Linked DNA regions of Homo sapiens: all the other regions are reported to be linked to region 7. The links are microRNA targets in miRTarBase. Many come from high-throughput screens and were not tested one by one. Region 7 holds a microRNA gene; each other region holds the end of a gene's coding sequence.

What was found. The annotated mature microRNA hsa-let-7d-5p reads AGAGGUAGUAGGUUGCAUAGUU and lies in region 7 at 2,167-2,188, opposite strand. An mRNA with a match to its seed (bases 2 to 7 or 8) in the 3' UTR can be bound and repressed. Matches are read on the target gene's strand: a 7mer-m8 pairs with bases 2 to 8, a 7mer-A1 pairs with bases 2 to 7 and ends in A, and an 8mer does both.
Region 1: miRTarBase lists LRRC42 as a target of hsa-let-7d-5p. The part of its 3' UTR that is shown has no 7-base or 8-base seed match.
Region 2: miRTarBase lists MAGEA12 as a target of hsa-let-7d-5p. Seed matches in the 3' UTR shown: 7mer-A1 at 1,201-1,207.
Region 3: the mRNA of KLHDC8B is a reported target of hsa-let-7d-5p. Seed matches in the 3' UTR shown: 8mer at 2,606-2,613.
Region 4: the mRNA of HOMER1 is a reported target of hsa-let-7d-5p. The part of its 3' UTR that is shown has no 7-base or 8-base seed match.
Region 5: miRTarBase lists HAND1 as a target of hsa-let-7d-5p. Seed matches in the 3' UTR shown: 8mer at 1,727-1,734.
Region 6: the mRNA of ZNF200 is a reported target of hsa-let-7d-5p. Seed matches in the 3' UTR shown: 7mer-A1 at 913-919 and 8mer at 1,698-1,705.

The regions. Positions count from the first base shown.
Region 1 is chr1:53,967,665-53,971,664 of GRCh38, reverse strand. It overlaps LRRC42 (leucine rich repeat containing 42), which reads right to left. Exons shown (of 9, transcript NM_001256409.2): 9 at 3,497-4,000. The coding sequence ends at 3,726. Among named protein-coding and RNA genes, the nearest start is that of LRRC42, 23 kb to the right of the region's middle.
Region 2 is chrX:152,736,372-152,740,930 of GRCh38, forward strand. MAGEA12 (MAGE family member A12) reads left to right here. Exons shown (of 3, transcript NM_001166387.4): 3 at 1-1,298. The coding sequence ends at 735. It also overlaps the pseudogene CSAG4. Among named protein-coding and RNA genes, the nearest start is that of MAGEA12, 4.9 kb to the left of the region's middle.
Region 3 is chr3:49,174,546-49,179,030 of GRCh38, reverse strand. KLHDC8B (kelch domain containing 8B) reads right to left here. Exons shown (of 6, transcript NM_173546.3): 4 at 4,065-4,289; 5 at 3,868-3,969; 6 at 2,545-3,426. The coding sequence ends at 3,230. CIMIP7 (ciliary microtubule inner protein 7) reads left to right here. Exons shown (of 4, transcript NM_001080528.3): 3 at 493-549; 4 at 979-1,397. The coding sequence ends at 1,395. Among named protein-coding and RNA genes, the nearest start is that of KLHDC8B, 5.2 kb to the right of the region's middle.
Region 4 is chr5:79,372,268-79,376,826 of GRCh38, reverse strand. HOMER1 (homer scaffold protein 1) reads left to right here. Exons shown (of 9, transcript NM_004272.5): 9 at 630-4,191. The coding sequence ends at 818. Among named protein-coding and RNA genes, the nearest start is that of JMY, 140 kb to the right of the region's middle.
Region 5 is chr5:154,472,230-154,476,788 of GRCh38, reverse strand. HAND1 (heart and neural crest derivatives expressed 1) reads left to right here. Exons shown (of 2, transcript NM_004821.3): 2 at 879-1,817. The coding sequence ends at 983. Among named protein-coding and RNA genes, the nearest start is that of HAND1, 3.7 kb to the left of the region's middle. RefSeq lists enhancers at 1-742, 2,413-3,384, 3,385-4,356 and a silencer at 897-1,084.
Region 6 is chr16:3,220,049-3,224,607 of GRCh38, reverse strand. ZNF200 (zinc finger protein 200) reads left to right here. Exons shown (of 5, transcript NM_198088.3): 5 at 1-2,283. The coding sequence ends at 716. Among named protein-coding and RNA genes, the nearest start is that of ZNF200, 13 kb to the left of the region's middle.
Region 7 is chr9:94,176,503-94,181,028 of GRCh38, reverse strand. MIRLET7D (microRNA let-7d) reads right to left here and starts at 2,195; the gene lies at 2,109-2,195. MIRLET7A1HG (miRlet-7a-1/let-7f-1/let-7d cluster host gene) reads right to left here. Exons shown (of 5, transcript NR_170278.1): 3 at 1,108-1,209. LINC02603 (long intergenic non-protein coding RNA 2603) reads left to right here. Exons shown (of 3, transcript NR_160773.1): 3 at 3,298-4,460. RefSeq lists an enhancer at 1,735-1,784.

The DNA of each region.
Region 1 (4,000 bases), not on the chromosome of region 7:
GTGTGCATGAGGGGGTGATCAAATTGGACTCTGGTTTGACTAACAATAATATGCCAACTTTGACAAGTAGAGCCAGCTGTTGATTGGCATTTGGAATTTGACAGAGTGCTACTGTCCACTCAAATGATTTTTTTTTTTTTTTTAAAGATGGAGTCTCGCTCTGCCGCCCAGGCTGGAATGCAGTGGCGCAATTTCGGCTCACTGCAACCTCCGCCTCCCGGGTTCAAGCAATTCTCCTGCCTCAGCCTCCTGAGCAGCTGGGATTATAGGCACACACCACCATGCCTGGCTAATTTTTGTATTTTTAGTAGAGACGGGGTTTCACCATGTTGGCCAGGCTGGTCTTGAACTCCTGACCTCAAGTGATCCGCCCGCCTTCGCCTACGAAAGTGCTGGGATTACAGGCGTGAGGCACCGTGCCCGGCCTCAAATGATATTTTAAAACTCTACTTTGTTACAGAGAAAACCAATCAGCACTGTATTCGCTTTTTCATTTTATAAATTTCAGAAATCAAGCTTTTGATATGATCCTGGGTAACAGCCCACCTTTAAAGAGGTAGTACCTTGCCTAGCTCAGAGTAGCAATTAACACATATTTTATCTAAGATCTACCTTTATTAAAATCCTGATTAAACAGAAAACCACATACTGCATGTTCTCACTTGTAAGTGGGAGCTAAACACTGAGTACACATGGATACAAAGAAAGGAACCACAGACACTGGGGCCTGTTGAGGGTGGAGGGAGAGGATCGAAAAACTACCTATTGGGTACTAACTACGCTTATTACCTGGGTGACGAGGTAATCTATACACCAGTCCCCCATGAGACGCAAGTTACCTATATGACAAATCTCCGTAAGTACCCTTGAACCTAAAAGTTAAAAAACAATAATGAATAAATAATAAATAAAATCCTCATTAAACTCCAGAGCACTTACAAATGTCAAACTAATGTTGTCAATTTCTTGAGGTATTTTCTCCCTTCCTTTTACTTGCCAGTAACTCTTGCTTTTAGCTCACCTTTTAAAGATGAATACGGTCTAGAGCAGTCCTGTCCAGTAAAAATATAATGCAATCACAAATGCAAGCCATGAATGTGATTTTAAACTTTCTAGTAGCCGTATTAGAAAAATAAAAACAGGTGAAATTATTTTAAATTACCATTTTAACATGTAACCAGTATTTCAAAATGGAGACTTTTTTTTTTTTGAGACAGAGTCTTGCTGTGTCACCAGGCTGGAGTGCAGTGGCACAATCTCAGCTCACTATGACCTCTGCCCTCCGGGTTCAAGCGATTCTCCTGCCTCAGCCTCCCAAGTAGCTGGAATTACAGGTGCATGCCACCACACCCGGCTAATTTTTTGTATTTTCAGTAGAGACGGGGTTTCACCATATTAGCCAGGATAGTCTCGATCTCCTGACCTCATGATCCGCCCGCCTTGGCCTCCCAAAGTGCTGGGATTACAGGCGCGAGCCACCACGCCTGGCTGAGACATTTTTCATTCAAACTTTTAGATACTAAGTCTTTGATATCTGATATCCAGTGTGTATTTTATAGCACATCTCAATTTGGACTAGCCACATTTCGAGTATTTAATAGCTACATGTAGCTAGGAGCTACATATTGGACAGTAAAGGTCTAGAGCTTTGCTACTCAATGTGTAGTCCACAAATTAGAGGCACTTTCAAAATATTTCTGCTCATAGACAATATACCTGATCACCCAAAAACTTACAAGATGAATGTTGTTTTCATGCCTGCTACCATAACACCTATTCTGCAGCATATGGATCTGGAGTAATTTCAACTTTCAGGTCTTATTATTAAATACATTTCACAAAGCAATAGCTGCCATAGACAGTGACTTCTCTAATGGATCTGGACAAAGTAAATAAGTAAATTAAAAACCTCTTGGAGGCCAGGTGCAGTGGCTCACGCCTGTAATACTAGCACTTTGGGAGCTGAGGTGGGCAGATCTCTTGAACCCAGGAGACCAACCTGGGCAACATGGTGAGACCCTATCCCTACAAAAGATACAAAAATCAGCCAGGTGTGACAATGGCATGTGCCTGTAGTCCCAGCTACTTGGGAGGCTGAGGTGGGAGGACCACCTGAGCCTGGAAGGTCGAGGCTGCAGTGAGCTATGATCACACCACTGCACTCCAGCCTGGGCAACAGAGCAAGACCCTGTCTCAAAAAACAAAACTAAACTTTCCCTCCTAGAAAAGACTCACCATTCTAGATGCCATTAAGAACATTTTGTGATTCATAGGAAGAGGTCAAAATATCAACATTAGGGCCGGGTGTGGTGGCTCACTCCTGTAATCCTAGCACTTTGGGAGGCTGAGGCAGGTGGATCACTTGAGGTCAGGAGTTCAAGACCAGCCTGGCCAAGATGGTGAAACCCCATCTCTACTAAAAATATAAAAATTAGCCAGGCGTGGTGGCATGCGCCTGTAATCCCAGCTACTTGGGAGGTTGAGGCAGGAGAATCACTTGAACCTAGGAGGCAGAGGTTGCAGTGAGCCGAGATCATGCCATTGTACTCCAGCCTGGGCCACAGAGTAAGATTCTGTCTCAAAAAAAAAAAAAAAAAAAAAAAAAAAAAAAAAAAATCAACATTAACAAGGGTTTGAAAGAAGTTGAATCCAACCCTCATGATTTTGAGGGGTTCAAAACTTCAGTGGAGGAAGAAACTGCAGATGTGGTAGAAATAGCAAGAAAGCTAGAAGTGGAGCCTGAAGATAGGACTGAACTGCTGCAATCTCATGATAAAACTTGAAAGGATGAGGACTTACTTCTTATGGATGAGCAAAGAAAGTAGTTTCTTGAAATGGAATCTACTCCTGGTAAAGATGTAACCATTGTTGAAATAACAAAGGACTGAGACTATTACATAGACTTAGTTGATAAAGCAGCAGCAGGGTTTGAGGGGACTGACTCCAATTTTGAAAGAAGTTCTATTGTAGGTAAAATGCTATCAAACCACATCGTGTGCTCTAGCAAAATCTTTTACAAAAGGAAGAGTCAATCAATGTGGCAAACTTCATTGTCTTATTTTAAGAAATTTCCATAGCCACTCCAACCTTCAGCAACCACCACCCTGATTAGTTAGCATCCATCCACCAACAAAGGCAAGACCCCCCAACCACCAACAAAACGAATGTAACTTGCTAAAGGCTCAGATAATTGTTAGCATTTTCTTTAGCAATAAAGTATTTTAAAATGAGGGTATATACATGTTTTTTCTTTTTGGAGATAATGCTATTGCACATCTAAGAGACTGCTATATAGTGTAAACATAACTGTTATATGCACTAGGAAATGAAAGAGTCTGGTGACTCACTTTATTGCAGTGTTTGCTTTACTGCAGTGGTCTGGAACCAAACCTGCAGTATCTCTGAGTTATGCTAAGCTGCCTTGTTAGTTCACCTGGCCTTCCATCCCAAACCGTGTTATTTCCTGTGGCTCCAGTCTATAATCCACAAGCAGAACTTAAGGACAGCAAAAATGTTTATTTGAAAAAATTACTATGTATTGAAAATATACATTAGAAATTATTACATACTTCCATAGCATTCCCCTCCCACACCACAAAAGTAGAAATATCTGCTTACTATGCTAATGCCATAGGTAAATTCAAACAAAAAGTAAATCATCCTCAGTCTCCTTTACTCAAACACTAGAGCTGGGGGCCAGAGAAAGGTCAACTTGTATCTACTAATCAATAGGAATTTAACAAGTCCCAGTCTTCCACAGCAAGACATACATATTTCTGCTTTGAAGGTTGTGAAGAGTTATTCTGTTCTGTCTCTGACTCCTCAAAAGGTCTCTTCTTGCTCTTCTTTGACTCCTGGCTTGAGATAGCTTCGTGTTTCAACACTGGCCCATGGCAATCTGGGGCTTTCTCTTTATAGAACTGGAGTTTCTCGGAAGAGTTCATGTGGGTGTCTGCCAGGGGACACTTCAGTGGGGCTTCTGCTCGAGACCGCTTCCCAT
Region 2 (4,559 bases), not on the chromosome of region 7:
CTCCCCACTACCATCAACTATACTCTCTGGAGTCAATCCGATGAGGGCTCCAGCAACGAAGAACAGGAAGGGCCAAGCACCTTTCCTGACCTGGAGACGAGCTTCCAAGTAGCACTCAGTAGGAAGATGGCTGAGTTGGTTCATTTTCTGCTCCTCAAGTATCGAGCCAGGGAGCCATTCACAAAGGCAGAAATGCTGGGGAGTGTCATCAGAAATTTCCAGGACTTCTTTCCTGTGATCTTCAGCAAAGCCTCCGAGTACTTGCAGCTGGTCTTTGGCATCGAGGTGGTGGAAGTGGTCCGCATCGGCCACTTGTACATCCTTGTCACCTGCCTGGGCCTCTCCTACGATGGCCTGCTGGGCGACAATCAGATCGTGCCCAAGACAGGCCTCCTGATAATCGTCCTGGCCATAATCGCAAAAGAGGGCGACTGTGCCCCTGAGGAGAAAATCTGGGAGGAGCTGAGTGTGTTGGAGGCATCTGATGGGAGGGAGGACAGTGTCTTTGCGCATCCCAGGAAGCTGCTCACCCAAGATTTGGTGCAGGAAAACTACCTGGAGTACCGGCAGGTCCCCGGCAGTGATCCTGCATGCTACGAGTTCCTGTGGGGTCCAAGGGCCCTCGTTGAAACCAGCTATGTGAAAGTCCTGCACCATTTGCTAAAGATCAGTGGAGGACCTCACATTTCCTACCCACCCCTGCATGAATGGGCTTTTAGAGAGGGGGAAGAGTGAGTCTGAGCACGAGTTGCAGCCAGGGCCAGTGGGAGGGGGTCTGGGCCAGTGCACCTTCCAAGGCCCCATCCATTAGTTTCCACTGCCTCGTGTGACATGAGGCCCATTCTTCACTCTTTGAAGAGAGCAGTCAGTATTGTTAGTAGTGAGTTTCTGTTCTATTGGATGACTTTGAGATTTATCTTTGTTTCCTGTTGGAATTGTTCAAATGTTCCTTTTAACGGATGGTTGAATGAACTTCAGCATCCAAGTTTATGAATGACAGTAGTCACACATAGTGCTGTTTATATAGTTTAGGAGTAAGAGTGTTGTTTTTTATTCAGATTGGGAAATCCATTCCATTTTGTGAATTGTGACAAATAACAGCAGTGGAAAAAGTATGTGCTTAGAATTGTGAAAGAATTAGCAGTAAAATACATGAGATAAAGACCTCAAGAAGTTAAAAGATACTTAATTCTTGCCTTATACCTCACTCTATTCTGTAAATTTGAAAAAAAAGCATGGATACCTGGATATCCTTGGCTTCTTTGAGAATTTAAGAGAAATTAAATCTGAATAAATAATTCTTCCTGTTCACTGGCTCATTTATTTTCCATTCACTCAGCATCTGCTCTGTGGAAGGCTCTGCGTTAGTAGTGCGGATGCTAAGGTAAGCAAGACTCACGCCTACCCGTAGGGTTGTAGAGCCTAGGACCTGCAGTCATATAATTAAGGTGGCAAGAAGTCCTGTAAGATGTAGAGGAAATATAAGAGAAGGGTGAGGGTGTGGGGTTCCAGGAGGGAGTTGTGGAGTGTAAATGCCCTGAGCTGGGGCATTTTGGACTTTGGGAACCTGCAGTTCCTTCTGAAGGAGCTGACTCTGATGAAGCTGGGTGGGTCCAGGGCCCACAGATTCTCAGTGAATGAGAGAAAAGCCTGGAATGGAAAGCAACTCTGAGTAGTTTATTTCGGATGGGGGATGAACAGAGAGGAATCTCCACCTGGGGCTGGAATAGAAGGTGTCCTGTGCTTTTGTCCCACTGCTATTGAACACAACCCAAGATCTAGGTGATGAAAATCTATCATCTGCAAGGGTTTCCTGAGCGATAAGGCTGAATTTCCCAGGAAGGGTGACCCAGAAGCCACTGGCCAGGTGCTTTTCTGCCAGGCAGGGAGAGCCAGAGCTGACTCCATTAAAAAGGCATTCTAACTAGGTTATCTCAAGTGCAATTTGACCAATTGTAGGCGTGGGCCAGATTTTGGATGGTAACAAAATGGATGAAAATAGTGGTTTGGGTGGGAAAGCAGCTGGGAGAGATGGAAGGAATTGGTCTTTGACACACATTCTAGGAGTTTTGGGTTGCACCTGGCTGGGCAAAACTCCCGCACACACAAAGTTTGAAGTGCATTCTCTAAGAGGAAATACTTAACTGAATTTTACAGGTGAAGCTTCCTTTTTGGCCTAATTATCCCATGTCCTGTTGAGCTGTATATTTTCTGATGACTCCTGGAGAACAACGACAACAACAACAAAGTCCCAGAGTGTTAATGCCTAGGCTTTAAAAATATTAGAAATAACAGCCATCGGCCATTTGTTAAACTTCTAATTTCCACCACGCCCGGAGTTTCTGTTGCTCCACATCTTCACTGGCAATTGGTCTTGGTTTTGTTTTGCTTTTTTATGGGTTTTAGACATTCTAATAGGTGTGTAGTAGTATCTCACTTTAGTACACAATTATCTAATGCCAAAGGACACTCAGTATTTTATTATGCTTATTTGCCCTGTGTGTATCTTCTTTTGTGTAGATTGTGTTCAGATCTTTGACTATTTTCATTTTTTCTATCATTGAGCTTTAAGAATTCGTATATATTGTAGAGACAAGTTCTTTATCACATATGTGTACCACAGATTTTTTCTGCTAGACTGTGGCTTGTTTTCATTCTCTTAACATTGTCCTTTGAAGAGCATAAAATTTTTATTTTAATAAAATCAACTTGGCAAATTTTTCTTTCCTTGATCATGCTTTTGGTGTTGAATTTAAAAACTCATCACCAAACTCAAAGTTATGTGGATTTTCTCTTACGTTTTCTTTTAGAGGTTGTATAGTTCTTGTATTTTTCATCAGGTCTATGATGTATTGAGTTAATTTTCGTGCAATATGTAAGGATATGTCTAGGTTATTATAATTTGTGTATAGGTGTCTAATTGTTCAGGCACCTTTTGTTGGAAAACCTGTACTTTCACCATTATTGCCTTTGTTGTGAATCACCTGACTATGTGTGTGCAGGTCTATTTCTGAGCTCTATTCTGTTTTATTAATCTATGTGTCTATTCTTTGCTAATGCTTATGTCCTCCACCAAATTCATATTTTGAAACCCTCAGCCCCAGGGTGTCAGTATTTGGAGATGAGGCTTCTAAGGTAGTAATTAATGTTAAAAGAGGCCATAAGGGTGGGAGCTTGATCCCACAGAATTAGTGTGATTGTAAGAAGGGAGAAGAAACAGAAGAAAGTACTTTTGTGCCTGCATGACTTCTCTCTCTCTCTCTCTTTCTTTCTCTCTCTCTCTTCCTCTCTCTCTCTCTGCACATACACAGAGGAAAGGCCAAGAACTGACAAATTAATAAAGGGCCATCTACAAGCCAGGAATAAGGCCATCACCAGAAGACAACCCCGCCAGTCCTTGATCTGGGACTTCCACATTTCAAAACTGAAAAAAGATAAATTTCTGTTGTTTCAGCTACTCAGTCAATGGCATTTTGTTATGGCAGCCTAAGCTAAGACATAACCTCAGGTAACACAATTTTTTTTGTTTTGTCCTAGAAAAAAAAAGCAATGTAATTGTGACATATAAAGTCTGTGGCTCATTTTGAGTTACATTTTTGTATGGTGCAAGATATGTGCAACGGCTAGTATTATGTGTCAACTTGTCTAGGCTATACTGCTCAGCTGTGTGGTCAAACAGTAGTCTAGATGTTGCTGTGAAGGTATTTTGTAGATGTGATCAACATTTACAATCAGTTGACTTTAAGTAAAGCAGTTTAACTTCCATAATGTGGATAGGCCTCATCCAATTAGTTGAAGGTGTTAAGAGAAAAGACCAAGGTTTCCTGGAAAAGGAATTCTACCACAAGACTAACATAAAAATGCGCTGTGAGTTTCTAGCCTGCTGGCCTGCCTTCACTGTCCTGGGGGAGGCATGGAGAGACCAGGTGGACTGGAGTAGACTGTTGAGAGACACTGGTCTGGTGAAGATGTCCAGGAAACCACGAGCCTCCAGCCCATTGTCCAACAACCACCCACCAACACCAAAGAGGTGAGGAAGTGGAAAGCATCCTCTCAACCCTAGCCCAGAAGCCCTATCAAAGTGAACGGCCCACCGAAGCTCTAAATCCTACCCTGTCCTCCCCTGGCACAACCCCCACCCCACCCTGCCCCATTTCTCTATGAAGCCCCTGTTCTCACCCCTTCTCCATCCTCTTCCCCAAACCAGTGCCCTTCTTTGATCTCCTGGTTGGTTTTCCAGGTTGCCAAGACAACCTGGAAGGGAACAGGGACCCGTCAAGGAAGTTCCAGGAACAAAAGGCTCTCCCTAAAAGACCACCGCTTCAAAAAAACCTGAGGAATGGAGTGGGCCAACACTATCCAGCCACTCCGACCAGCCAAAAGAACTCAATCAAAATGAGACACAGTAGGACCACAAGGGCAAGGAGACCACCACCTTCTCCAGTCTCTCTTTGGGCAGCCAGTAATTCCCGGGCAAGGCCAGAAACCTCAAGGCTACCTGAAAAGTCTCCAGAGGTCTAACCCCAGAAAAATAGCCAACAGGGTGTAGAGTACATTTT
Region 3 (4,485 bases), not on the chromosome of region 7:
CATGGAGATGTGGAGTAGGCAGTTGTCTACTGAACCCAAAGTTCAGGAGAAAGTTTGAGCTGGAGATAGAAATTCCAGTTTTCAGATGGCATTTAGAGCCAAGAGGCTGGGTATGTTGATGGGGGAGTAAGTGTGGATGCAGGGGAGGAGAGGACTAGAGTCCTGGGCAATCAAGAGTTAAGGCCCAACTTGAAACTTGGCCACTGCTCCCCTGATGGGAGGATGTTCTAGCAGATGCCTCCTTATTGAGGACCCTCCTCAATAAGGGTTCCACGGGCTTCTGCTTCAGGGCAAGTCCCAGGTTGAGATATCCCAGGACTGAAGTGTTGCTTTAATTAGTCTCTGCCCTCTGTCTGTTGGCAGTTTAGCAGCTTAGGGGCAGTGGCTCCTGGTGACTTCCCTCCATTAAGGACCCTGAGGCAGTGATCCAGGTAAGGGTGGGTAAATAAGCATCATTTTCCCCATTCACCTTCTTTCTCACTGTCTTTCAAGGAGCCGGCGCAGCGACACTTCTTCTCCAAGCACGACAACCGTACTTCCTTTGACAAAGTGAGTGCCGAAGACAGGAAGAATGGCAGGCAGTCCCCCAGCCTAAGCTGAAGTCTGGACAGAGCAGATGGTAGGGTGGAGGGGATGACACTGAGGGAGGGCTCCTTATGAAGGCAGAGGAGTGGCTGTCTTCCCCCACAAACTTTCTCCTCTGGGAAACAGCCTATTCCCCCAAACAGAGACATCTCTATGTTGGTTTCCTCTGCCAACTTGCCAGACAATATGCAAGTATCCTGTGGGCCACTAACTTTCTGGGTGCTTCACCTTAGAATGAAAGACATCACTGGGGAGGCAGGCCAAGGAGGCCAGGGTACAGGCCAAGACAGCCAGGCATAGGACAGGTATCACCAAGCAGACTTGGGGTTAGGAGGGGCCCAAGAAGGTGCTTGGTGCCAGGAATGTGGGCCAAGGGCCCATACCGTTGAGGAGGGTCCCTATTGCCTGCTGCAGGGAATCGGAAGGCGGAAGGACCTGGAGCGCCTGTGGCAGCGGCACACCTTCCTGCGCTGGGCACCCTGTGAGATAGAGTTGCGCCAGCAGGGGCCCCTGGAATCTTCTTACCAGGCTGATTTCAGGCCAGGCCCAGGACTCAGTGGCCTCCCCCAGCACCTCATCCACTTTGTGCAGGTCCAGCCTTCCCATACCAGGACCACCTACCAGCAGAACTTCTGCTGCCCATCCCAGGGTGGCCACTATGGCAGCTACAAGGTAGGGCCCCAGGCGCCGGTCACTGACGTACTGCCTGACCTCCCAGGGATCCCAAGACCCAAGCTGCTGCAGCACTACCTTCATGCTGGGGTCTCTGAGTGTCTAAACTGGTCCAGAGCATTAAACAAGGACAGCTGACACAGCAGCCTGTCTGTGCTTGCAGCCCACAATGGGATGTAGCCCAAGAGGCTGAAAGGTAGTAGTAGGCTGCCAGGTCCTGTGCCTGTCTCCCATGGCACTTGTGCCCATGGTGTGTTTCTGTGCTGGGCATGGGAGGTGCTGCTCTGGGATCCCTGCCACTAAGTGAGAAAGGGTAAGGCCTGCAGGAGGCTAAGAGTCCAGGAGGATTGCTATAGCCACATCAGGTGGGTTCCAGGGCCCCAAGTACTACTCTGTTCTTGCAGTAAACCCAGCTGTAGAGAGGAAGATTAGAGGGCAGTCCCCAGCCTAAGTTGAAGTCAGGACAGAGCAGGTGGCAGGGTGAAGGGGGTGACACTGAGGGAGGGCTCCTTATGAAGGCAGCGGAGTGACTAACTTCCCCACAACCTTTCTCCTCTGGGAAACAGCCCATTCCCCCAGAGACATCTCTGTGTTGGTTTCCTCTGCCAGCGTGCCAGACAATGTGCAAATATCCTGTGGGCCACTGACTTTCTAGGTGCTTCACCCTAGAATGAAAGGCATCACTGGGGAAGCAGGTCAAGTACTCAGTTTAGCTATGGGGAAAGCAGACCCCAGAGACCAGTACTAGTGGGCGACAAAGGCTGGAAGAAGGAAGAGTTGGCAGCTTTCTCAGGAGGCAGCTGCCTTTGAGGGGTTTGTTGGGTGGCCACACAGTCCTGTCCAAGAGACGGCTGCCCCACAGCTGAGACAGAAAGAGACTGCCCTGGGCCACAGAACCCACTGCACCACCCCTCCCTGTGGGGGTGAGCAGAGACCCTAAGGAGACACTCTGTAACTTGGATCTGGAGGTCTTCCTAACCTTGTGGTATTCTGTTGTTTTCTGAGCACTTCTCTGGTCATCTTATCCTGCCATCCTTTGGTGACATGTGACAGCCCTTCCTTACTGCCCTAGTGCTCTCTAATCCCCAGGACAGTAAGGAGGCGCTGTCATCACATGTTGCCAAAGAATAAGCTGAGGCTCAGATGGAACAGAAACACCAAATCACTTTGGGAACACCGACCAGATCCAAGAGGCTCCTTCTGGACCCTCATCCCTAGGGGCATTGAGACCCCCAAAGGAAGGCAGGGGCAGTGGAAACAAGGGAGTTCACACCAGGGTCCACACACTAGGTTTTAGCAGCACTTTTACTTCCACATCCAAACTCCCTGGGTCCTCACAACAGCCCTGTGAGGTAGGTAGGGTAGGAAGGTTTCAGAGATCCCCATTTATAGATGAGGATGCTGAGGCACAGAGAGGTGAAGTGACTTGTCCAAGGTCATACAACCAGCAGTGTAGAGGGCTCAAAGCCAGCATTCCTCCACTTGAACTCCTGCGCTCCGGCCCTCTGGCAGTTCCCACATCCTCTCTATTCTCTCTGTGTCCCCCACCCTCTCAACTCTCCTGGGTCTGCAGGGACCCTAAAGGCAGCCTGGCAGCTGAGATTTTTCAGGAATGGCAACTGGGGTAGGCCTGGTCAACTCCAGATAGGAACTGACCCTGAAGAGCATGAGGCCAGCTTTGCTTCTCCCCATTTCCCAGTTGGATGGAAGGCCTAGTAGGTCCCAGGGCAAGGATGGAGCTAGGCATGATTCATGAACGAATGGTGATAAAGGTAGGTGTAAGCATATGTGTGTCCTGCACTAAAGACAAAGGCTCCCCTAACCCAAGGCCCCAAGGCAGTGTTTCAAGTGCTCACCCCCATGCCTCTCTCATCCCACAGAGCCACAGTGAGTGTCCTCAGCAGCAAAAGGAGCCATAGAAATAGCTGCCTCTGGCAATGAGCTGCTCCAGTGGACAGCTCCCACCAAGCCTTCAGACCCCATCACGCAGACACAGTGCCTCCACGGCTTGACTGGGGCCCTGGGCCACACCCCCAATAACAAACAGCCGGGGCCCAGCCTGCAGACTAGAGCAGGAGCAGCGGGCAGTGGGCATGGCAGGCAATGCCTCCCAGCGCCGCCGTGCAAGGCTAAAGCTCTCCACAGAGCCCAAAGGACATGGCTGGTTTCCTGCAAGAAGGAGAGAGAAGGCTGTGAGAGGCACAGGCCGTAGGGACTCCAGGCCCTTCTGCTCCCTAAGCCCAGAGAATAGCCCAGTAGTTATCACCCCAGGATGAGCTATCAGGGCCTTGCTCCTCATTGCCTATGTTCATCATTTGTTCATTCATTTATGTTTCTATATGTTCTCTTGACTGTGCATACAGTGGTCATTTGTCCTGCTGCTGTCTCGTAGACCCTTGCTGGTGCTTGACAGAGCCCCCAGTCACTGAGGAACACCCTGAGTGCTGGGCCAGGCAGACCACATCCTGCCTACTTCATAGATAGGGAAAAGAGCTCACAAAGCCCTGACCCCTGGAGTGCCTGGAGATGGGCAGAAGGTGACACACATGCTGGGGGCTAGTCTTTCCTGTCTTGGGACTCCCTCCTCTCCCCAGCCCCATAGAGACTTACCAAGGCCCCCAATGGCCACAATGTGGCCCCCAAGGGACCCAACCACAAAGTCTGCCCTCTTATCCCTCATGCGCAGGCTGCGGGGCAATTTGGTCCAGGACCCTGCAGGAGAGGGGAGGTCAGATCTAGTCATGTACACACTATGCCCCTCCATCCCACAGAGAGCGGGAGGACAGCCCAGAACAGCCACTGCTCACCATGCTCCAGGTCAAACATCTCCACAGTGTTGACAAAGTGTGGGCGAGAGTAGAAGTTGTGGGGCCCAGGCTGCTGCAGGCCACCCAGGCTAAAGACGCTGCCTTCAGCCATGGCGCAGCCAGCAAAGGCCCGACGGCTGGGTAGGCTTGGATGCCGGGTCCATGTACGGGCCTCCAGATCAAAGGCTTCAAAAGCAGTCACCGGGAGCTTGCCCTGGCGGCCCCCTGTCAATGGAATTGGGGTACCTGGGAAGGAGCCCAGGAGGCTTGGTGGGCTCCTTGCTCACTAGGTTGCTAATCTGCCTGCCTCAGCCTCCCACATCCTGCTGTGTGCACACTTGCACATGAATCATCCACCCTACAGTCCCTCAGGTACTGGGGTTTGGTTTTCCAACCACAGCAAGACCACCAGGGGTCAGAG
Region 4 (4,559 bases), not on the chromosome of region 7:
CAATGTATTGGAACTGTTAACTTATAATTCTCTAATATGTACAGTTATTATGTATCTTCACTACAGTTTCTAGCAATTGAGTGATACTCTCTACATATACATTTATTTGATATTGAGGCAAAGCAAAGAATAACATATTCAGAGGATCCTAAAATCACATTTTAGAGAGTTACTTTCTTGTCTAAATCTTTCTCTAGAGTTGCCAGTAAACAGAAAAAGTTAATTTCTTTTTCTTTCTCTGCCTGCTTTCACCTGTGATTGCTAATAATTATGCATTAGGAGAAATAGGTGGACAGCAATAAAAATGAGATCTAAGTGATCCATAAATAGGTCTTCAAGCCTGTCTTGGTATTTGAAGTACCTAGAGTGTTGCCTGGCACAAAGTAATGAGTCAGTAGATTTTCGTTGAGTGGTTAGATAGATTGATAACCAAGCCAGTCATTAAAATCGTATTGCTCTCTGGGATGGCCAAGTCTAAAATCTCCTTAAATTGTGCTAAATTAAGATTCTGCAGCTCATCCTGACAGTCAAACTGCATTGATTACCGCAATATTGGTAATAACAGAGAGTTGTATTGTTTTCTAAGTGATGAATTGACATATATACATGTTACACTTTTGTTTCTGAAGGAAGTAGAAATTCGGAACAAAGACCTGGAGGGACAACTGTCTGACTTAGAGCAACGTCTGGAGAAAAGTCAGAATGAACAAGAAGCTTTTCGCAATAACCTGAAGACACTCTTAGAAATTCTGGATGGAAAGATATTTGAACTAACAGAATTACGAGATAACTTGGCCAAGCTACTAGAATGCAGCTAAGGAAAGTGAAATTTCAGTGCCAATTAATTAAAAGATACACTGTCTCTCTTCATAGGACTGTTTAGGCTCTGCATCAAGATTGCACAAAAAAAAAAAAAAAAAAATTGAATATCACTCCTCCAGGAGGAGGATCTTTTGAAATTGGAATTGTATATTTCACTGTAAATTTTAGAATCCAGCTTGTAGCTAGTTGGGGAAAAAAGATGAAAAACTTGAACTACAAATTACCTCCATGTATATTATTGGCCATAGTTAACTAGAAAGTTATAAATAGACACTTAATGCAATCTTTTTTCCTGATATTAGCCAATGGGAGAATTAACAATGTCTAGGTCACATCCCCTTTTTGTGTTCAACACAGTGAAGATTATCTGCTTTTTAAATTAATTTATTTACGATATCTAGAGCTGTGTTTTGTGCAAAAACTTAGTGATGAAAGCCTGTCTTTTGTTGTAATCTGAATAATTTCTCAGGATATTTTTGCACTGCTGAGAAGCAGTGCCATTACCAATTAATTCTTGCCAGGAGTGAGAGAGAGCTGTATCTTTAATTGAAATATACTATAACTGGGTGTATAGAGTTCTTCCCTTTTTTGTGCTGGAAGATATTTCACTCTGGTGACTACTCTGGTACACTCTGGTGTTCTCTAATCTTGTCTGTTGTATAGTTTACTTTTCCATATTGATTCCATGTATTTATGAGAAGATATTGTCTCCCATTTTATTACACATTTTAAAGCCAACTAACGAAGGCAGCTGAGTCCCTCAGAAATTTTTCTTTTTAAGTTTCTAATAAATTTGACACACAGTACTGAAATACAGCAGCCCGTCATTGACAGGCTGGTCTAGCAATGTTAAGTATATTTACAGAATATGCAGTTACATTTATTTATATATTTTGCAAGAAATCTTTTCTGAATGATCAATGCATTTCAATTTACGAATAATAATGGTTATTGGGGAACTGTTTATTATAGATAATTTTAAGGTGTATAGCTATTTTAAAGGGGGTCCATTTACATCAAACAGCTGATCAGAGGACTCTATCTAAATTGTGATCGTGGCAGATAGAGATGGAGTCATGTACTCTATCTGGCTCTACACATCAATCACATCTTGATTCAAACCTCACAAGGCAATATTCTGAATTGTTAACTAGGTATTTCAAAACAGGAATTAAATTCAATAGGCTCTTCTCAGTGAACAGGTTTTAATGTTGTTTTGATGTAATTTTAAAAGACTTTTAGCAAACATGCATTTCTTTATATGATATATTTCTTTTACGAAGCTATTTTAAAAGTAAGCCAAGTGCTGTCTAGTCTGCTTATAAAGTAGGAATTGCATCAGAGTACATATATTCTTGCTGTACAATGCCTGTGATGTTGAGGAGGGTTCTTTTTTAAAGTGTATGCTTGAGTAACTGACTCTATGGAGTCTATAAATGCACTGACTTCTTGTTTGTACCCCAAAATGATCGAATTGTTAAGTACAAAATTAAGCTAATTAACCAATTTGTAACCATTTTTTCACTCATAAACAGCTACTCAATACTAGACAATTTTGTTTTTTATGTATGTGTATGTACGTAAATACATACATATTAATTTACATTAGAGTGAAAAATAAATGGTTTGTTTCTGAAGTTAGTTTCTTAAGTGAGTTTTCAGGTGTCTCTGAAAAATTTATAACAATCATGTATTATATGTGCTGTAACATCATGTACGTTACCTCCATCTATTTTAGGATATTTTCCTCACCTATATATTATAGGGAGAATAATTTAGATACACATGCTCAGAGCTGAGATATTTCTCTGATAAATCAGGTAACAAAATGTATTTGATTGATGGAATTTTGAAGTAAATGTGTTTTTATCCATCAGTTTCTGAGTAACAAAGAGCACCAAGTTTTAATTTAAATAGGAGATTTAACACTAGGGATCAGGGAGTTTAGTATGAAGAGTTAAAAAAATTTAAAAAACAGTGTAAGCTGTTGAAATGGCAAGTGAATTATTTTAATGATGTAATAAAATATTTTTAAATTTTGACATAGTGATCATTTAATGAAAAAACTCACCAAAATGTCTCCATTTGAATTGTATTGATAATGTGGGACATATGTGTGATTCAATATATACATATACCCATATGTATATACAGAAAATTATTTTTAATACTTTCCTACTGATAATGAAATTTAAAATTGGAAATTTTGTGAGTGTTTTTCTTGTCCAATAGAGCCTAATTGTTTCCTTTTTTAGTGATTTAACAATCTCTTGAGGGCTGCACCTTTAAATTCCCAGATTGTCAATAGACATGTACAGTATATGGGATAAGGTGGACACAAGTGCACATATAAATAAAATCTTCTTAAGACTTTTAACTATTCATTTACAGTAGGAGAGTATGTAGAAATCATCATCCACAAGTCATAATTAGGTTGTGTGCCTACTGTAGTTTTTTCCATTTCTGTATTATATAAACATTTGCATATTAAAATTTGATTTTTCCCAGAGACAAGTATTATATACTGTATCTATATTTAAATCAAACTGTGGTAATATATTTCTCAGAAAATAATGTTGGGGACTATAGCCTGAACATGTGGACTTGAAGCGACATGGAGGAGGAGGTTGATCCCATTGTGTATAAGTTAATATGTGATAACTATTGAATCTTGTACAAAAACAAAAATTGAAAAAAAAAAAGAAAAGCAAAAATACAGTTTTTATTTTGAAATACATTTGTTCTCTGGAGAATGTACTTTATCTTTTTTTCCTCCAGTCTTTTACAGATATTTAAAAGCATTTAAATGATGACAGCATTTACTTAAATCTTTCAGGTGCTACTGGATTTTGCATTAGTGTGTTATGTTGTGAAATCCTAACTTTGACATAAAAGGTTTTATAAGTATTCCCCTGCCTGGAAAATTAGTTTTTGTTCTCCTCTCTCTCTCTTTCTCTTTTCCACTTTCTTTCTGCAGACTAAAACATGCTCACGAAGTTGCATCTCTCCTTGTCTCTATAGAAGATCTCCAGCACCATCATAGATTTGATGTTCTGCTGTCATTGAACTGTTGGGAAGCAGTTAGAGGAAAAGCTCACTTTTTTTTTCAGGTGGAAATAAAAGGAACACTCAAAATTAAGCCAACACCACCACTACCTTTAAAAACTAGTTTATTTGCCCTGTTAAAATTAAATGTATTCTTTAACATGTGGGCTACAGTCTCCCATGTTTTTATTTAACTGAAGCATATACACTTCGGTCATTTATCTCCTTGTGGTCCTGATTTTGTCAGTACTGGAATGGGAGGCAGGTCGGGGAAAGTTTGTTTGATGGCAGTGGATTCTTATTGTTGTTTTAACCATTGCATTTATTTGATATCAAATGATTTTGACATCCTGAAATTCTGTGCTTGAAGTCATGAAATGATTTTCATTGAATTTTTGCCTCCTAAATGTATAGCATGAAGTAAATTAATTTATACAAAATCTTAAGAAACCTTTCAGGTAAGAAGTAGTTGAGATTGACACTGTTAGAAAATTTCTCAATTTCTAAATTTAGAAATTACTAGAAAAGGAAAGGATGTGTCATTCACCTTACTCCAAATTGCGAAAGTGTGTTTTTTCCTAATATTCGTGTTAAATTTTACCTTAAAATTTTTATGATAGTTTTTCTTCATGAGAAACTGATATATAGATGTCACGCAAATACAAGCAAAGTTACTGAATTAAAGTAGTGGG
Region 5 (4,559 bases), not on the chromosome of region 7:
TTAGGGTGACACTTCCTGGCACTCGGTCTGGCTGTCCGGGGCTGGGGGCTTCTGAGCGCTGGGTTTTCAGGCTGGCCAATCAGTTTCTCTAGGTTGGGGGGCTTAAGGCCGTAGCGGAGTGGAGCCAGCTGAAGCGCCCCACCTGGTTTATCCAACCTGCGGGGGCCTGTGGTAAACTGACGAAAGCTCATCCAGGGACGAGGGAAAGATAAATAGGCATCGAGTCTCTAAACGGCTGCCCCGGACTGGGGATGGTGCAGGCCGGCTTCTTTCGAGGTGCGGCGCCTCGAAAGAAGTTGTTATTGGGCGGATCCCGGCCCCCACGCGTCGCCGCCTCCTTCAAGTAGCACCGCTTGGTTCCTGCTGAAAGAGCGGGAAGGAGGACGCTAGGCCAGCTCGACTCCCCGCTCTTTTACCTCCGTATCTGAGGCTCCCAGCTCCGGCTTAGGGGGCCCCAAGCCTGCATCCAAGCCCTGATGTTTAAACCAGGTTGGGAGGCTGGCGGAAGTGTGTGGGGTGCAGCGAGAGCGGGAGAACCGTGGATTTCCACCCCTCCCTTCCAATATCCTGGGATCTCCCTTAGGTGTCCTAAAGCCAAATCAACGCGCGTCAGTTTCACCAGACGCAGAACATTTTCCTTACCAAACCTCCCGAAGCTGCCCAGCCCATCCCGGGTCCCAGGAACTCCGCGCATAAAGGCAAATTTACGAGCCTGTTTGCCTATTTCGCAAACAGAAATCCGTCACTTATTTAAAGACTCCCAGTTACTGCTCCCGACACCTTCCCCTCCTCCTCATCTTACCCCATGCCGGGCGATCGGAGCAGAAAAATTAAAACCTGTCTCTCCCGCCTCTTTTCTTCTGTGTGTCCTTTGGCAGCAGCAGCACGAAGGTTTTCCTCCTGCCCTGGGCCCAGTCGAGAAGAGGATTAAAGGACGCACCGGCTGGCCGCAGCAAGTCTGGGCGCTGGAGTTAAACCAGTGAGCCGAGGCCCGCGCCGAGGACCTGGCCAGGCCAGCCACTCCTGAAGCCCCGGGAGGAGAGGAAGGCAGCGGCGAACGCCAGGCTCTGGGCTCCGGCGACTGGTGCTACGCATCCCGCGGAGCTTCTGCTGAGCGCCGGCAGGTCGTCGGCTGCAACCACACACTTGGATCGCACGTGCAATGTCCTTTGATTTTTTTTAATACATTAAGAGAAAGAGAAATATATATATATCCACCCCCAGCCCAACCGAGGGCGGCCCTTGGCGGCAACATGCAAGAAGGAGGGACTGTCGAACCCAAGGGCTCAAAGACGCACTCTTCCACCCTTTTGGAGCGAATTTAGAACCTCAGCCCTATCTCCATTTCCCTATCTGGCTCTTTCTCTCTTGTCCCTCCATATGATCCGCCCCGACGCCGTCTTCTCTAATTAAAATGCAATAAGGAATCAATTCTTTTCTGCCTGAGAAAGAGAACCAGACGCAGGAAGATGAAAGGCTGCCCTTTGTTCTTCGAATCGTGGTGGTTTTATTTTATTTTTCTTTTTGTCGCTGCACTTCCTGTTTAGTTCCAAGGGAAACACTTTCTCTCTTTCTCTGTCTCTCTCTTTTCTTCCTTCTTTTCCTTCCTTTTTGTTTCTATCTAAATAAAAGCTTTCCCTGTGTTGGAAAGTTTTTATGTATTTAAACTACCTACCATGCCTGTTGTGCTCAGGTGTTTGTTCATCCTGCCATCCCCAACCCTTTTCTACCTCAAGTCTGTGTGACCACTCACAGCCCCCCTCCCTTCGCCAAAGCAGTGTCTATGCTCTTGATTAATAAAACATTTTCTGAAATCATCTGAAGCCTGTGTCATGTCTCAACCGGGGTCCCTCACCGACTCCCATGGCTTCTGCTAGGTGGAAAGCCTCTGTTCCTGCTCCTCTTCTTTTGATAAACACGAAACCAAACTTGAAATCAAGGGAAGCCGGCAGATAAAGAATGTATTTCAAGAACAAGAGCAAAGTTCTCTTTAGACTAGAACGGGAGGTGGGGGTAACTTATGGGAACGGGGAAGAACAAAAACGGAAACGAATTAGTCTCAGAGGGCCTGGGCTCGGGTTTTTGTGCGTTGAGTATTCGTGCTTGTCTGGAGGTTAGTATGCCCACTGGTGTCTGCAAAGAGTGGTTTGGAGTGTTTATTGGGAGGGAAGGGGGCCTAGCACACAGGTGAATCCTATCCCTGGGGCAGGGTAGCTCAGGAGAGGGGGTGTTGGTGGGGAATATGTTCATGTATGTGAAATTCTCAACATATAGATGTACATGTGACAGTGCAGCAACTCATACGGAGCCTGAGGCTGTGCAGGGGCCAACAAGGGTCTGCTTAGTACAGCTCCAAGCACACAGTAAGGACTTGACAAGTCACAGCAGCTATTATTATTTTATACCTGAGTAAAATAAGCTTGTGAGTGCTTATATGTTAAATTGAGGTATTTAGGTTTCTCTTTAGCAACGAAGCACTCGACAGAAGGTTGTGAGAGCATATGGATTTGTGCAAAGGGATGGGGTGTATGTGTGTATGCGTGCTCATTCGGGCACTTGTGCAGGAGAGCCAGTCTTTGTGTTCTCTCATGCGCACCCATGACTAGGTGTGGTGGGTATAAATTCGGTGCATTTGCCAAGGATCTTGGATGCGTATTGGGCTAAACTGGGGCGGGCAAACGCAGTGGTTTATACTTCCAGGAATAATAATGTACGAATACTTTGGTTGCGTGCAACTGTGTGCTAGGCACTGCGCTAAGCACTTCTGTGTCTCCCAACAGCTCCCATGGTTGCCCCACGGAGCGCACGCTCTGCAGCGCCTGAGGGTCTGCGGCGCTCACTGCGAAGGAGGAGGGGAGACCCGTGAGGCTGTCTTGGAACTTTCGCTCTGCGCACCTGGAGCCTGAGCGCTCGGCTTGGGAACAAGAAAGGAGACCTCAGGCAGCTCCGGGGCAGGGCCTCGTGGGGCACCAGGCGTGCCCCAGGCGCCTTGTCCCAGCGTCGGGGTGAATATGGGACCCCATTAGTCTTGGCTGTAAACACCGTAGCAGGGGCCGAGAGGCCACGCGGGCCTTTCCGGACGCGAAGGAGTTAATAAAAGGTGTTTTATGGGCGCTAGGAAACAGTGGGGGAGGTGTGAGCTTCTCTCTCTACTCTCGCCCCCCTACTTTTTTCTTTTTTCCCTCTCGCCACCCGCCGCCAGATCAAACAGGCCCGCGATTTAACTAGGGCAACACTTGGCGGTAATGAGCCTGTCCGACGCACCCCTTCCTCGGCCTCAGTACCCGGCCCGAGGCCCCAGGGCCCTTGGGGAGGAGCAGAGAGAAAAATCAAAGTTTCTTTCTTGTTGTTTTGTTTTTCTTTTCTTTACCTTCTTTCTTTCCGTTTCTTTCTGGGAGTCCGTTTAGAAATTCCGGCGCGCATGGAGAAACAGACTCAGGGAGGGAGGTGATCTAAGCCCCACAGCACGGAGGGAAGCTTATCTAGATTCGAACCCAGGACTCCAACTTCGCTCACACACAAACCTCTGGCTATACACAGGTCCCAGCTCCCAGGACTATTTTTAGCACCGTGAAGTATCCTAGGCACGGGAAGAATGCGCACCCTGGTCTAGCTTTCTTATAGCCGGGGAAAGAAGAGGGGGTGCTGAGGGAGACCCGCCAGCGGCCGCCAAAGCCAAGTCTGGCATAACCAGGCCTCTTCAGAAAACCCAATCCTGCTGGCCCCAAACCCTCTTTGGGAAGAGAGCCTTGGAGCCCTAAACTCGGTCTCAGAAACGTGCAGTCCCTGAACCCGGGAGCCGAGACGGAGCCGGCGCCCATTGAGAGGGTCACTGGATAGTCCCCCACTCTCCCCACGCCTGACTCCAGCGGCCTCCCACGCCCACGCCACATCCCCAGCTCCCACCGCACAGCTGGAAAAGCCGAGCACAGAGAACGGCTCGGAGCTGCCCCAGGTTTCACAAACCATTCTGTGCTGAGGGTCTGCAGACTAGGGGTCCAGCCCTTCTCGCTGCCACCCTGGCTCTCCAGGCTCCCACCCCTCCTTAGCCCTCCCTTCTTTGAAAACATCTTTAGAGTCTAACGTTTAGTTTCTTCTTCTCTGCCCAGGTTTCAACGAGGTTTGTCAGACACCTCAAATCAGCTGTGGCAGAAGCAGGGTCATTATTTATTATTTTTGAATTAAATACATCTTTTTTAAAAAATGGGAAAAATGGAATGGTTACCAACTTAAAAGTAAATTCCAGGAGTTTACTGCAAGGAAATATTGATGTTACAAAACGTTAACTATAGGACTATTCTATTAAAGAGTGAAACACGAGAAAGAACCTGATGTCCTATAATTACAGAACTGGCTCAATAAAGCCATCAGTACAAGTGGGTTACTATTCAGCCATTAGAAAAAATGTGGGAATTGACATGGAAATTGTTCACGATATATTAAGTGAGAAAACCTCCTCCCATATTACACCAAACACTGTCCATTGTGACCCTTTTCATGTAAAAATAAAAAAATATTATTCGTGGAGAAAAATTGGAAGAATATACATCAAAACTTTC
Region 6 (4,559 bases), not on the chromosome of region 7:
ATGGCAGTAATCCTGAAGGTGAAGATCCTGAGAGGGAACCTGTAGAAAATGAAGATTATAGAGAAAAGTCTTCAGATGATGATGAAATGGATTCTTCCTTGGTCTCTCAGCAGCCTCCCGATAACCAGGAAAAGGAACGACTAAATACATCCATTCCACAAAAAAGGAAAATGAGAAATCTGTTAGTTACCATTGAGAATGATACTCCTCTAGAGGAACTCTCAAAATATGTAGACATCAGTATTATTGCCCTTACTCGAAATCGGAGGACAAGGAGATGGTACACTTGTCCACTGTGTGGGAAACAGTTTAATGAAAGTTCTTACCTCATTTCCCACCAGAGGACCCACACTGGAGAAAAACCCTATGACTGTAATCACTGTGGGAAAAGCTTCAATCATAAAACAAACCTCAATAAACATGAGCGAATTCATACAGGAGAGAAACCTTATTCCTGTTCTCAGTGTGGAAAAAACTTCCGTCAGAATTCTCATCGGAGTCGTCATGAAGGAATCCATATAAGGGAGAAGATATTTAAGTGTCCAGAATGTGGGAAAACCTTCCCAAAGAATGAGGAGTTTGTGCTTCATCTGCAGAGTCATGAGGCTGAGAGACCATATGGTTGCAAAAAATGTGGGAGAAGATTTGGTCGGCTGTCAAACTGTACCCGGCATGAGAAAACCCACTCAGCCTGTAAGACCCGAAAGCAGAAGTAATACTGGGAACCCTTTCTGGGTCTGATGGTGCTGCCTCAACCTGAGAGCTTTCATAAGTAGTTCTGAATTCCCAAGCTGCCTAAAAAGGTATAAATGTGTAAAAATCTCATTATTGCCAAAATTGGATAAATGCCCATCTTAGCTAAAACCTCAAATTGCTAGAAAATTCACAGGGAAGAAAACATTTCAAGGGCTATACCTCAGCATCTAGGCTTTTTGGACTAAGGAGCTTTCCTTTTTGAAGTTATATGATAATGTACAGGTCACAGATCCCCTTTCCCAACACTTTGAAGATGAATCTGGAGTCTGCTTACTTGGAAGGCAAAGAGTGACTTGTGTCTATTGAAAGTATATCCGTTTTCCCCCCACATGGGGATTCATACTTGAGAAATAGTGCAAAGATGCTTATCTGGAACTGTGTTCTGGTGAAAGAACCAAATTACTGGCTTGTTAGCCAACAGCTTCTGATAGCAATTCATATAACCCTCTAAGAATACCTGTTTAAGTCTTGAGTGTTGAAAGGAATTGTTTACTTTGGAATATAGGAAAACAGTTGAATGTCAGACTCTCATTTGTATGTGATCTAAATTTGCAATCAATTTCAATAATATTTACAATTTGTGATAAAACTGACTTTTACAGATTCCTTTTCACAACATAATTTAGGTGTCTACTGTTCTTATTGTATTTTGTTCTGCTGTTGATCTCTCCAGCAGCCGTCTCATGCTTCTCCCTTGCTAAAAGAAGTTTGGATTACTCAGGCAGGGCCATCCAGCCCCACCACTAGAAAAGCTCTTCAGAATCTTGTCCCTCTGTTGAGCCCAGATCTCATGTGCTACGAAGGAAACCCCAAGACCCAGAGAGGAAGGGTCAACCTGGAGGCAGGAAAAAGTTGGCTTGGATCCATGTCTCATCAATAACCTTACCATATGCTTAGGTCCCCTCTATGCTGTCATCAGACCTTTGGCAATGGGGTGGTCACTACCTCACAAGGCAAAGTGTTGTATGATTAGAAATTACGTCTCCAGTGGTTAGCTCACATTGCCTCTCAAGAGACAGGTTTCCAGGTGTCTTCATTGTAGTGGGTATTAATTGTCTTCAGCCTCTTGATATCCATACCTTCCTGTCCTCTGCCTAGAAGCAAGGCCAGCGGTGCCTTTACGGACTGATCGTGTGGTGCGATTTAGGGATTCTTCAGTTTTGCTTGCTTTAGGTTTCCAAAAGTTATACATTGGTGTTTTGATTGGAATAAAGAAATCCTATAAGCTATTTGGGAAAAATTATAGTGTATGTTTCCCATCCAGAAACATGCCTTTCTATTTATTAGAGTATTATATTCCTGTGAAAATTTTTCTAATTTTCTTCACTTGTTTTACACAATTTTGTTATTGTAGTTTTTTCCATTATATTTTTATAGTTGATTATTGCTTTTACATGGGAAAGTTATTTTTAATTATATATTTGTATAGTCATCTCACTGTTGTTAATTTTCAATAGTTTGTTGGTTTAGTTCTGTTAACTTTTGGTAAAATGACACCATCTACAAAGAATAGTTTTTGTTTCTTGCCTTCTGCCTATTGGTCTTTTTTGTTTTGTTTGTTGTTATTAACATGTAATTCTGAGGTTTCTTGTTTTGGCACAAAGCATTCTGAAAGAAGGACATTCTATGATACAGTTCAGTCCTGAATCGTAATTTAAAAACAACAAATCCTCCACAACAGAGAAAGGCCACAGAAAAACTGTCTTTACCAACATTGTATTTCAGGCCAACAGGAAGTACCCTGTAAAGCCAGCAAAGCGAACAAAACAGGCTGCCCACAACGTTATTCGCTTATTTGAAAGTCTGACCAGTGCACTAGGACTGGGATCCTGAACTGTGTTTCCAGAGTCGGCAGGCTGTTACCATGTGCAGTGGACCTGCCTGTGCACCCAGAAAAGTAGCTGCCAGGAAGTGAGTGGTGAGAGAGAGTCTCCACTCACTCTTTGGTACCCCTGCCCAGAGTCGGGTATTTTATCAGTCCTCATGCAGCCATGGCACAGTACCCGAGACAGTTAATTTTTTCTTTGAGACTGGCTCTGTTGATAAGGCTGGAGTGGGGTGATCTTGGCTCGCTGCAACCTCCCGCCTGCTAGGCTCAAGCGATCTTCCTGCCTCAACCTCTTGAGTAGCTTTTCGTTTAAGTGTAGGTGGGTGAAGCCACCACAACCCACACCATCTCATGTGTAGGGGACCTGCCCATGCATCCAGAAAAGTAGCTGCCAGGAAGTGAGTGGTGAGAGAGAGTCTCCACTCTCTCACTCTTTGGCAGCCCTGCCCAGAGTCGGGGGTTACATCAGTTCTCATGAAGCCATGGCACGGTACCTGAGACACTTTTTTCTTTAGTTGAGACTGGCTCTGTTGCTAAGGCTGGAGTGGGACGATCTTGGCTCACTGCAACCTCCACCTCCTAGGCTCAAACAATCCTCCTGCCTCAGCTTCCTGAGTAGCTTTTTGTTTTTTTAAGTGTAGGTGGGTGAAGCCACCACAACCCACACCATCTCCTGGACTGGGGAGGTGCCCACGGTCAGGGTTGCCGTCAATCAGCACCCAGTGTCCCAGAGGGCAGGACATGGGCCGCAGGGTTTCCTTCCGCAATAGTGAGGCTGGGTGGGAATGAGAGGAGCGCCCCGACCAGGACCAGGGGCCGCCCCCAAACACGAGAGCCCCTGGGAAGTTGTTGGATGAGTAAGTTCTGTTACCTAAGGAGCCTGATCACCAGTTAAGTTGAAAAAGTAAACAACAGTGAACAGTTTCCCAATATAGCGGTAGAGCGAGAGTTGGAAAATGTAAGAGACCAAAGATCCAATTCCAGTAGTAACTACAGAAAATAAGCCAGGCGCAGTGGCTCACACCTGTAATCCCAGCACTTTGGGAAGCCGAATCAGGAGGATGGCTTGAGGCCAGGAGTTCAAGACCAGCCTGGGCAACATAGTGAGACCCTGTCTACGAAAAAAAAAAAAAAAAAGATTTGGTTGAGTGCAGTGGCTCAACGCCTATAATCCCAGCACTTTGGGAGGCCAAGGCAGGTGGATCACCTGAGGTCAGGAGTTCAAGGCCAGCCTGGCCAACATGGTGAAACCCCATCTCTACTAATAATACAAAAAGTAGCCAGTTGCGGTGGCAGGCATCTGTAGTCCCAGCTACTCAGGAGGCTGAGGAAGGAGGATTGCTTGAACCCGGGAAGTGGAGTTGCAGTGAGCCGAGATTATGCCACTGCACTCTAGCCTGGGCTATAGAGTGAGATACCATTTCAAAAAACAATTATTTTTAAAATTTAAAAAACATTATCAAGACGGCATGGTGGCATGTGCGTGTAGTCCCAGCTACTTTGGAAGCTGAGGTGGGAGGATTCCTTGAATCCAGGAGTTAGAGACCAGCCTGAGCAACTTACTGAGACCACATCTTTTTTTTTTTTTTTTTTTTTTTTTTTTTTAAGAAACAGGGTCTCACTCTGTTGCGCAGACTGGAGTACAGAGCTGTGATCATAGCTCACTACAGCCCTGAACTCGTAGACTCAAGAGATCCTTCCGCCTAACTCTCCCAAGTATCTGGGACTACAGGGACATGCCACCTCACCCAGCTAATTTTTTTATTTTTATTTTTCTAGAAACGCGGTCTTGCTATGTTGTCCATGATGGCCTCAAACTCCTGGGCCCAAGTGATCCCCCTGCCTTGGCCTTCCAAAGCGCTGGGCTCATCTCTTTAAAAAAAAAAATCAGAGTAAATGGGAGGTTGACTCCAGCATGACAGTGTGAGAGTGCCTGTAGTCCCAGCTACTTGGGAGGCTGAGGCAGGAGAATCTC
Region 7 (4,526 bases):
CACTGCAACCTCCACCTCCCTGGTTCAAGCGGTTCTCCTTACATCAGCCTCACAAGTAGCCCACCACCATGCCAGCTACTTTTTTTTAGTAAGATGGGGTTTCATCATGTTGGCCAGGCTGGTCTCGAACTCTTGACCTCAGGGGATCTGCCTGCCTTGGCCTCCCAAAGTGCTGTGATTACAGGCGTGAACCACTAGGCCAGGCAGAAATACTCATTTTGAAATTACCCCAATCCTATCACACCTCATTTCCTTGCTCTTTTCCTACGCATCTTCGCCTAAATCAGTGCACATGAAATTGATGCAATTTTGCCACAACTTAAATCTTCAACTTTAAAGAACTGTACCATGTAAGGTACCTTAGAAAACATACCCAACCATCTCAATTCATAAAGGAAATTTAAAGCCCCAAGTATGAGAACATCCCTAGATCACGATTCTTCCTTCCACTGGAGCAAGGGGCTAGGCAGCAGAGGGGCAGGATGGGAAACTCCACTGAATTTCCTTTCAACTTTCTCACCCCTGGAGACTTTTAAATGTATTACTGCTCATGATCAGGCAAGGGTGGTTCACACCTGTAATCCCAGCACTCTGGAAGGCCACGGCCGGTGGATCACTTGAGGCCAGGAGTTCAAGACCAGCCTGGCCAACATAGTGAAACCCTGTCTCTAATAAAAATACAAAAAATTACCTAAATCCTGTCTACTCTACCCAGGAGGTGGAGGTTGCAGCAGTGAGCTGAGATCACACCACTGCACTCTAGCCTGGGAAACAGTGAGATTTTGTCTCAAAAAATAAAATAAAATAAAAAAAAATACTACTGTTCATAGTAGTTGGAAAAAGATGGAATGCTAATGCACAAATTCGTCTCATTCCTAGAATGATAAATGCTCAAACTAGACTAGTGAAATGAGACATAAGAGTTTTTACAAGGTAGTGTCTGCCTGAGCAAACTCAAATAATTACTCAAGTAAAGAAAGGAGGCTGTCCTGGCCAGCACTTTGGGAGGTAAAAGCCAGAGGATAATCAGGAGTTCAAGACCAGTCTGGGCAATATGGTGAAACCGTCTCTACAAAAATAAAATTAGCCAGGCATGGTTGTATGCACCTGTAGTCCCAGTTACTAGGAAGCTTGAGTCCGGGAGGTCAAGGCTGCAGTGAGCTGTGATCATTTCACTACACTCCAGCATGGGTGACGGAATGAGACCATCTCAAAAACAAAACAAAAAGGAGGGTGATCCTGAGCAGTTAATTGTCTGTACAAAGTCACACAAGTGTTTACAAAAATGGAAGAGCTGGAAATTGCTCGTGTTAGCTTTATTAAAACATCTGTAAATGACCATCCAATCACCAAATTATTGCTAATGAAAAATGAAACTAAGAACAAATCATAATAATTACAAATGAAAAATGCATCTACTACTGCAAGGATGGGGATAAGGGTTAAGGATGACTTAAAAAGCACTAGTTTTGAAGTATGCAGTGTTTTTATTGAAAAGATGTATAACTTTTAACAAAATATGTAACACTATTACCCAGTCAAGACAACCACTTTCATTTTATTGACCTTCCAGTTCTTGTACATATTAAACAGACAAATCACTGTTACATACCATAATGAGCAGCAGCTCAATTACCCATTCCCAAACCATGCAATTCCACCCCAGCCGCCCCAAATTTTAAATCCAGAAGACAAACCTAGAAAAGCAGCAAGATAAATATTTACAAACATTGTAGAAAAACAGCAGTATTTCAAGTTTTGTTAAATTCTTTCCTTCAGACATAATGTAGACATAGAGGAGGAACAGCTGAGAGTCTCTGCATCACAGAAAGAGAAACCTGAGCAAAAACAAAACCATGCTTTCTAAACTTTCCAGTGACACCAAAAGGGAGACACTAGCAACTAAGTGTACTTCAGAAGTCTCAAATTCTCATTAGTTGACTTTCAGTTATCAATGTCAGCACCATGCTGCAGTTTATAATCACTAACGCAAACACTGCTCTCTTTGATATTCTTGCAATGTTTTCATTTGAAAAAACCTACAGAAAGAACTCTGCTTACACCAAAGCAAAGTAGCAAGGAAACAGGTTATCGGTGAATAATAAGGCCCTAAGAAAGGCAGCAGGTCGTATAGTTACCTCCTTGTGGGCAAAATCCCTGCCCTAAAACTATGCAACCTACTACCTCTTCCTAGGAACCCATTTTTTTTTTCTTGCTGGTCTTCTACTTGGCAGATGCACTTCAAATTAACCTGTTAAATTAGGTCATGTTCTTTGAGTTTTGTTTCTAATTCAAACTAATCAGAATTCTTTAACTAATGCTTTTGAAAAGTTATCTGGCCATATGACCTTGGTAAAAAGCCACAAATACATTTGCTTAAAATCCAACCTCAAGTCACAAACGAACAAGAAAGTAATGACATCAGAGGATGTAAGCCAGTAGTCTAATACTCAGCCCACCACGTATTACTGGAGTCGCTGACTTTTAACATTTAATTATCAATTTTTTTTTTGGACAGTCTCGCTCTGTCACCCAGGCTGGAGTACAGTGGTGTGATCTCGGCTCACTGCAACCTCTGCCTCCTGGGTTTAAGTGATTCTCCTGCCTCAGCCCCCAGAGTAGCTGGGATTACAGGCGCCCACCACCACGCCCAGCTACTTTTTTGTATTTTTAGTAGAAACAGGTTTTCACCATTTAGGCAGGCTGGTCTCAAACTCCTGACTCAGGTGATCCGCCCACCTTGGCCTCCCCAAAGTGCTGGGATTACCGGCATGAGCCACCACACCCGGCCTAATTTTTGTATCTTTATTAGAGACTGTGTTTCACCAGGCTGGTCAGGATGGTCTTTAACTCCTGACCTCAGGTGCTCCACCCGCCTCAGCCTCCCGAAGTGCTGGGATTAGAGGTGTGAGCCATGGTGCCCAACCCAGTTACCAACATTTAAATATCAAATTTCATAAAATCTCCAGTCTCTCCTGTTAACTGGAAAAGTAGGTGACAATGTATATAAACCCTGCTTGCTACCTATCAACCAGAGCAAATTAATTTACTATATTTGCCAGTTACAACTAGCCCCTCCTGGGCCTCTGATGGTATTTCAGTTTTTGACCCCTGAATTAAAGCAAACAGAAACAAATTCTGATCATGAATTTTATCATCATTAAAAACAAGCTTTCAGAGATAGTCATTCTCTCCATAAAGGCATTTTTAAAGTTTTATTTCGATTTACTTACTCTGCTTAGCTAATAACAATGTCCTTATGTAATTAATAAAATATATAAATTAATTTTTCTCCAGGGCTTAATTATTAGATAAGGATACGTTTCCAACTGAAGGTGGCAACGTTATGCTGGAAGAACATGTCAGGAAGACCACAAAATTTCATGACTGTACTTGCTACACTTTCAGCAGAAGAGTTATACATATTTTCAATTCAACAAAGATTAAGCCAAAAAGAATTCTTAGAACATTCCCACTCTTCTTTGGCACATCAAAAGGCAACAAATGTCATTTTCTCCCATGTTTTTATGTGCAGTTTAGAACAAAGACCAATTATCTATGCAGCTGTCCACAGTGGATAAAACAAAAAGCATACATTTGGTCCAGAGTTAAGTCACCTGGGTTGGGCCCATCCAAGGAAGTTTGATGTTTCTACTCTCATGAAAAGTACCAATGGCACTGCACAGTGATTATCTTAGATATTAAGGATAAACACAAATTTCTCCTTAAATTTCCATTTATTGGAAATGATTGGAGGGAGGGAACTTCTCCCTCACCTCCACACTGCCTCTTTTCCAACTCTTCTTCCAACACAAAATAGTTTAAACAGCAAGCACTTAGAGAGCTTTTAGCCTTGCTTGTTGATTACAAGGCCCAAGTTAGTGTATGGTTTGCCCATCGGAGGAAAGCTAAAACATGGGCCTTCATGGGTATTAAAATTGAAGAAACCTTTTCCAGCATTTTTTCTATTTTCTTTAAAGTAACAACCTATGGACTTCCCCATCTGACATTTTCGAGTGATCCCACTGTGTGAATGAAGGACTACTTCAGGGTTTGAGGGCAAAGCTGAAATCTTAGCAACTTACCAGTGAGCAAAGGTAGAACCCAGAGCCCATCTCTCCTTTTCCAGGCTGCTGAGTAAAGTCTGGCTCAATCAACCTATCAATGAAGCAGTGCTTACAACATTCTCCAAGACCACCCAAAACCCAAACTGGAAATGAATCATGACTAATCTGACTCATTTTGGCTCACACAGTGCCCTTCCAATTTGTATTTACCTTTACCACCCAGGACCTGACCTTGGACATGTGTACCAGGATGTAAGGCAATAAACCTATTCACAATTCCAAAAGGGCCTGGTCCTCTATGAAGATTTCCTGAAGGCTACTTACTTTCTCTACTCATTAAAATTTTTGCTTAACTTCAAATTTCTGAAATATACCATATGTGAAAAATTTAAATGTTAATCTGTGCCTACTGTACTACTTGAACAGAGAAAATTAACTGATAAACTGTAAATACAAAAT